Homo sapiens: one gene and its partner. The protein of the gene in region 1 interacts with the protein of each later gene in a pairwise test. Each region holds a gene or a part of one and is shown in the gene's direction. Other genes may lie near its edges. The genes, in order: DISP3 and CA2.

Evidence for each region.
Region 2: the proteins of DISP3 (region 1) and CA2 interact in a two-hybrid assay, tested with the Homo sapiens proteins (one large-scale study listed by IntAct).

Annotation. Positions count from the first base shown.
Region 1 is NC_000001.11:11,527,439-11,531,255, forward strand, and holds part of DISP3 (protein dispatched homolog 3), read left to right. Parts: intron 1-533; coding exon of another isoform or gene 534-630; exon of another isoform or gene 631-2,117; coding exon 2,118-2,248; intron 2,249-2,328; coding exon of another isoform or gene 2,329-2,348; coding exon 2,349-2,521; intron 2,522-3,468; coding exon 3,469-3,595; intron 3,596-3,817. UniProt on the Homo sapiens protein: Plays a role in neuronal proliferation and differentiation. Plays a role in the accumulation of cellular cholesterol. Involved in intracellular lipid droplet formation. May contribute to cholesterol homeostasis in neuronal cells.
Region 2 is NC_000008.11:85,466,963-85,470,779, forward strand, and holds part of CA2 (carbonic anhydrase 2), read left to right. Parts: intron 1-3,817. UniProt on the Homo sapiens protein: Catalyzes the reversible hydration of carbon dioxide. Can also hydrate cyanamide to urea. Stimulates the chloride-bicarbonate exchange activity of SLC26A6. Essential for bone resorption and osteoclast differentiation.

The DNA of each region.
Region 1 (3,817 bases):
CTCAGGAGGCTGAGGCAGGAGAATCACTTGAACCCAGAGGCAGAGGTTGCAGTGAGCCGAGATCGCGCCTCTGCACTCCAGCCTGGGCAACAGAGCGAGACTCCATCTCAAAAAAAAAAAAAAAGAGAAAAAGAAACTGCTGTCCATTTCCACCTACCTGCTCAGATGGGTCTCTGCCCAGGGCTGGGGAGTGGAGAACATTGGCAAAGAGACGGGCCCGGGAGCTGCTCCCCACCTTGATAGCTCCTCAGGGGTTGCAGTGGCCACCTGGCTGTCCCTCTGGCATACCAGGCCCCTTTCCATCTCAGGCCCTTTGCATTTACTGCTCTCTGTGCCTAGAATGCTTTTCCCAGCTCCTCAAGTGTGAGACAACTTCTCAAGATTCAAGTCCCTGTCCAAAAGTCACCTCTTGGGAGAGGCTGTCCCTCTCCAAGTGCCACATCCAGCCTCTCTCCATACGTCACCCACTGCTCTCCTGGCCCCATTGCCACCTGCCACCATGCTGACCTGCAGTGTTACCTGTCTTCCCACAGGAGCACACAGGCATCCTGTGGTAGCACCTTGGCCGTCTCATTTGGTGCCGCCTCCCCAGCACCTGTCACGGGTGTCTGGCGTAGTAGGTACAAATAAGTACTTGCTGAATGAATGAATGAGTACACTCCACACTTCCTTGACAAGGCACTCACCCACACTCTAAATATATCATTAATTCAGAAAATGTTTATTTAATGCCCCTGCCCCTTCTGCTGGAAGGAGAGCGAGGGGAGGGCCCCTGTTGTATTCACTTGCCACAGGCCCAGTCCCTGCTAGCACCCAGTGTGAAGTCGGGTCCCTACTACATGCCGAGTCAGAGGCTGCATTCTGTGCTCTCGGGATCTCCACGCCATCCAGGGGCACCTTTTCTGGGGTTTCATTCCCCATGTTGTAAACACAGCCCTGCATCCATTTATCTGTGGAGGCCATATTAGCCAAAGGTCTCCTCTCTCTGCCGTTCACTGATTTAACAAACTGTGGGCTTCAACTGTGCTGGCACTGTGCTAGGGATATGGTAGTGACAAAGACAGATGTGACTCCTGCCCTCGAGCTGTCTAGTGGGAGACAGGCCACTAACAAGTAAACAGCGATATCATTACAAACTATGATACGTGCTCTGAAAGAAATAGCCCCACTGTCATTGTGGAGAACAGTGGTACAAGGCCATGCTCGGTGACACACAGGGACTGTGGTCTCTGACAGAACTCGGTGATACGCGGGGACTGTGGTCTCTGACGGGGCTCGGTGACACACAGGCACTGTGGTCTCTGACAGAACTTGGTGATGCACGGGGACTGTGGTCTCCGATGGGGCTCAGTGACACATGGAGACTGGTCTCTGACGGGGCTAGCTTTGGAGTGTCAAACACCCACAGGAGCCTGAACTCTGCATGGGGCTGAGGGCTGCAGCTTGGAGGCCAGGGAATGGCAGGACAGCCACCCACTGGGTCCCTTCCAGCCTGGGACCCTGACTCGGGGGTGGGGGCCCCTCTGCCTGTCCTCCCCTGAGCCCCAGGCTGGGCTCACTCTGCACAGACACATCAGTGGGCCAGGGGTCAGGCAGGCTGCCTGGATGAGCTGGAAACATTCTAGAAAGAACTTTGAGCTGCACTGGGTCTAGTGGTTAGCCAGCTGTTGACACTGGAGCCCTTCCTTCCTATAGAATCTAGAGACTCCCTAACTGTTGGGGTTGAGGCAAGGCTGGGGGCTTCTGAGCGAGGACCACTAGGGTTGGCCCTGGGGGTCCCTCCTGAACCCTCGTACCCCCGGGGGACAGTTTGAAAGCTGCTGGTCTTCTCCACCCTTCATGACTCCTATGGGGAGACTGAGACCCAGAGGGGCAGGGCCTTTACTAGGTTCCCATAGTCAGCCTTGGCAGGGGCAGGGCTAGAACAGCCTCCAGACCCCCAGCCCAGGGCACATCCCCCAGCCCTCAACCTGAGAACAAATCCCCATGCCGGGGCAGAGCCCGAGTCCAGACCCCATGACACCCCAGCCCCAGTCCCAACCCTGGCCTGCTGGCCTCACCTCCCCTGACTCCTCCTAGCCTTTCCGGCCTCAGCCCAGCCTCCATTCCCTCCACAGGAAGCTGTACTTCGCCCAGTCCCACAAGCCCCCCTTCCACGGGCGCGTATGCATGGCACCCCCTGGCTGCCTGCTTAGCTCCAGCCCCGATGGGCCTACCAAAGGCTTCTTCTTCGTGCCTAGTGAGAAAGGTACGGCAAGGGCACACAGGTGGGGACCTCAAGAGCTGAGACCTCGGGGCTCAGGAGCTGGACCCTGCCTTCCCTTACAGCTGTGACTCCCTGTTCGCAGTGCCCAAGGCCCGTCTCTCAGCCACCTTCGGCTTCAACCCCTGCGTGAACACGGGCTGCGGGAAGCCGGCGGTGCGGCCACTAGTGGATACCGGGGCCATGGTCTTTGTGGTCTTCGGCATTATTGGCGTCAACCGCACTCGGCAGGTGGACAACCACGTCATTGGAGACCCGGTACGGGGCATGCGTCGGGCAGATGCCGAGGGCCCCAGCTGCAACAGTCTTGCAAATAAGCACCTGTCCAGGGAACCATGTCCAGCTCCTCACACCCCCTCTTGGCTCCTCAATGGCTCCTCTAACCCAGACAGAACCCCTATGGGCCCCTGGGGGTCCGGTTTTTCTTGAGGACTCAATGGCGTTGACCTCTTAGATTCACCCAGGAATCTGGGTTTAGGGCCCAAGCTGGATGCCTGTGAGGGACTGGAATGGAGAGAGGGCAATCCAGGTGGACACCTCCGTGCCCTCCTCCTTGCCCTCCCCCTTCCTCTGAGCTCGGCCGTGGCTTTCTCTCTGAGGCCTCCCTCCCTCACATGCACTCCTGTCCAATGTGGGGCTCTTCAGTTTTTGAAAGCACTGCTTGAGCCGGGACTGTTCTGGGCACGTAGTGGGTGCTAAGGATTCCTAGGAGGAAGGACAGGTGGGTGTCCTTTGCCTTTATTAGTCACAGCCCAGCGGGGTACACGGGAATGGCAGCCATGGAGTAAGTCGGGGGCAAGGTGGAGTCGGAGGAGATCTGTGTGTTCAGTCCACACTGGGTGTCTGCAGGCGCTCGGAGCAGGGGTGGGGGGACCAGGCAGGTTCTGCAGGACAGTGAGGATGTGGCTGTCTGGGAGGGTGGGGAGAAAAGCAAGAAGTCCAGGTGAGAAGGTGGTGAGGGAAGGGGAGGAGGTGAAACAGAGGGTCCTGTGTGGGGTGGGCAGTGATGGGAGCAGATGTTGCTGGCGGGGGCAGGGCAGAGGGTTAGGGTGGAGCAGTGGGTGAGCAGTTGCAGGCTGCCAACATGAGGGTGACAGGTAGCAGGAAGCTGCTGGAGGTTCTGCCCCAGGGTTGGGGGTGAGCACCCAGGACTGAGTCCCCGTCTCACTGAGCGGCCCGGGCCGGCTTGTTTCTCCTTGGGAAAGGGTAGTGTTGTCTACGACAGCAGCTTTGACCTCTTCAAGGAAATTGGGCACCTGTGTCACCTCTGCAAGGCCATCGCAGCCAACTCCGAGCTGGTGAAGCCGGGTGGGGCCCAGTGCCTGCCTTCAGGTGCGTGGGGTGTGGGGAGCTGGTTCCTCCGAGGGAGGATGGACTGACTGGGGAGGCACAGAGGCCGTGGTCCAAGGTAGACAGCCCGAAGGACAGTGTCTGGCATGTGGGGGTCTTTTGCAGATGTGTATCTGTGCTGAGCATGTCCACACCAGGGTGGGGTGTGTGCCGGCAGTCGAGGGTTTTTGGATGTGAGCAGGCTTGTGTGTGAACAGGACTGGT
Region 2 (3,817 bases), on another chromosome or scaffold:
TCATTTACAAACCAAAAGAAGTGAGCTACTTTAGTCTGTAGCTGTACTTTTTTAAAGAGCCACAATGATGTCATTGTTTTCAATGGATGTAATGTCTGCCAAATTATGTATCTCATTGGATGCTACATAGAAATTGGATAGTTTAAGTCTTTTTTGGAGCACTGAAGAAACAAATCTCCAACAAATGAAAGCAGATGAGGTTCCTAATAGTCCTTAAAAAATGGATAGTGAAATAAATTATTCTAGTAATATGTATTACTGGAAAGTGGATTTGAACACATGGTCTGGTGGCTATCAGCATAGACTGGGGTCAGAGAGACCTGGATTTGAGTTCTAGAGCTGCCGGCAACTAGCTCAGAGACTTTGGGAGTAATACTGTCTAGGTTTTAATTGTTTTTAACTGTAAAGTTGGAGTAACAATAGTGTCTGCCACAGTGGAAGGATGAAATGGGACAGTATATGTAAAGCCCCTAGCCCAGTGCCTGGCGCATAGAAGTTGCTCAATAAATGGCCTCTGTTGTTGTCACAACTTGAACCCTTCGACCACCTCTGTTAGACCATTGCTGTAGATGTTGCACCTGCGATAAGATTTCTGAATAAACTTTTTCTTTAACAGCTTTAAGATTAGTTCCCATCATTTGATGTATTTTAAATTTTTATTTTTATATTTTCTGAAGCATACTGTTTATCATACTGAATATGTACTTATTTTATGTATGAAGTTATTATATAGTTACATATTTTACCATGAATCTGTTAAACTTTGACAGATTTCTCTATAAGCAGTAACTAATTAGATCTAGCTACATTTTTCACAGCTATTTCTTCTGGAGAGCAATGCATACATTTTTAAAGAAGTTGGCCATGTTTAGATTGTGAAACAGATGAAAACCACAGGGTTTCGGTAGGAGCTCCCACCCATGCCTTTAGAGACACATGTATTATCCACCTAGTTCTACAAAAAAGTCATTATTAACACCACTTAAATGCATGGGAAGCTAAGCATCATGAAAGCAGGGTGGAGGCCTGGTCCCTCTCCTGTTCCCCGGAGCCCATGCTGGAAATATCTAAAGTAGAAAGACATAGAAATAGTAGACCCTGACTGCCACTTTGATAAGTGCAGAAAGGAAGTACTCCAAGGAACTATGGAAACGTGAAGGAGGCTTGGCAGTTTAACTGATAAGACAGGAAAGACTTTCCAGGGTAAATAAGGCTTATGTGGAGGCTTGAAGGATTTTGATGTCTTGGACGAGAGTCCAGGCAAAGGGAGATAGGAAATACCAGGAGACTTAAGAGAGCACAGCATGTGCTCCAGAAAGGCAAGAAGGTATACTAAAAGCAAGGTCAGAAAGGACTTGCCCTCCTTTGCATATGAAAGATTCCTTTGTAATTTTGCCTCTCTTTTCCACATTTTCAGTTACTTTGGTTAAACAAGAATGCAGAATATATTAAAATGTCAATATTAAGAGAAAAGACATCTACAGAATAAATTTTTAAAAATCATACCATGTGGGGGACAGGCACGGTGGCTCACGCCTGTAGTCCCAGCACTTTGGAAGACTGAGGTGGGCGGATCACTTGAGGTCAGAAGTTCAAGACCAGCCTGGCCAACAGGGTGAAACACTGTCTGTACTAAAAATGCAAAAAATGAGCTAGGTGTTGTGGCATGTGCCTGTAATCCCAGCTACTCAGGAGACTGAGGCAGGAGAATCGCTGGATCCCGGGAGGCGGAGGTCGCAGTGAGCCGAGACCGCACCACTGCACTCCAGCCTGGTGACAGAACGAGACTCCATCTCAAAACAAACAAACAAACAAAAAACCACACACACACACACACAAAACCATGTGGAAAAACTCCCTTTAGACTTTCTTTCTTTTTTTTTTTTTTAAATAAAACAATCCTAGGCTCTCAAAGCCAAAACAAAGAATAGAGATACTCTAGTTAAACTCACCTTAATAAACATGAAGAAACAGAAGCTGAAGAGTTTAAATAACTTGCTAAGTCGTCTCCTTGCTAGTTTGCTGGAGGGACTAAGTAGCAATCACTTAAAAATAGAATTTTGAATAAAAATATTTGAAGGATAACCTTATTTGACATTTAGTTTATACATACCATGTTTTTTAAAAGCTGGCATTTTTTTCTGTACACAAGTCAAAAAGTTATTTATTTTAGTCACTTAATTTTAAAAAATCGGCAGTTTAACATCTCTTTTTATTAGGAGTTATTTTTGTGGTGGTAACATTTTTAGATTTCCTATACCTCTTATTTCCTGCATTTAAATGCAGTTCATTTACCTGTCTTCTTTGCCTCAATGAGATTTCAGCCTTCTAGAACTTCTCATAGATTGAGGTTTTCCAATATGCTTTAAATGTTCTCTTATATCCAAACTTAAGAACTTGGGTATCAGGAACTGAGCGGGTTGACTTTATTGCTGATTTAAGCTTGAGAGAATTTTTTAAACTACGGAGTTAATAGGATTTAACTAGAAACTTGGGTTAGAGCTCTCATCAATCTTCTAAATTCCTTTGAAAATAAGCCACCATAAATTCACCTTAAGTTAATGAAAAATTGCTAATCCCTTTAGGTTCTTAAAAAACTTATTAAAAAATAACTCACCCTGCTTGAGATGTTTTATTAATGGCCTTATCTGGGAGAAAATAATAGTAGTCAAATTATTAACTCCTGCTAACTTATTAACTTTTATTAATGAGTTTAATACTCTCCTGCTTTATTGCAAAGTTAGGGACAAATATTGAAAGTCAATGCCAGAATTATTGGGCCAACTCTTATCCAAGTCTTACATCATTTCTGTTTTTCAGAAATTGGAATTTTTTAAATCTGTTTGTTATTTCAAGAAAAGAGTAAAGGAAGCTGGATGAGTTTACCTGTGCTCTTTTTAAGTGACCCATTGTCTGTATGACGTAATGGATCTTCATACATGGATCCTGCTTGACTTTCAGGGACTTGCTTTTGAAGCTCTAAAAGTTTTCTTTCACAGCAGTCCTAAGTTAAAAGAAAGCATAACAACAAATGAAAGGGCTTGTCATGCACGCAGTAATGGTGTCAGCCGAACCTTAAATATCTAGAAAATGGACCAACATATTCTAAACACTGTAGTTACTATATTCACATCAAAACAGCTTCTTTTTTTACTCCTATATAATTGCCACATAGTTTAAACCACGACTTCTGTTGAATTTCAACTGTGTTTACTCTAGCGAAAGTGACAGCTAAACATCTTATTGCTTTAAAACAAATGGAATACGTGTATTTTTTCCCCCCAGATTTGTCTATATTGGCACGTAGCCCTAGGATTATTGGCTGCTGCCAACAGGCAAAACAGTAATGCATGATTTAAAATTTTTCAGGTTATTTATAGAAAAGATGGTACCGAAAATGACATGTTTTCTGTAGAATTAATCTTTTGCTTTATTAGTAGGAAATCATTTAAATTTTATTTTTAAACTAAAGATTACTGGGACTAGTTTATTTATATTTTGGACTTAGGAGAAACTGTTGACATTCATTACGGTCTTTAGTCTGTTACTCCAGTGCATCTTAATTTAGTTTAAGTGATTAGGGAGAAAAAATTAAAAAATATTAAATGTTCAGCTTTTAATTTGTATAAGTAATGTGATTCATTTCAATATTACTGGATTTCTTATTTTTCTCAAAAAGTAATTTATATAATTTCCTCAAATAATATGTATAGGAAGAAAGATTATTCTATAACATTATACTTAGTGCTTGTTTTGTGTTATATACAGAGTATGTATAATTGATGACAATCATGAAAATTAAAATTGGCTGGAGCTC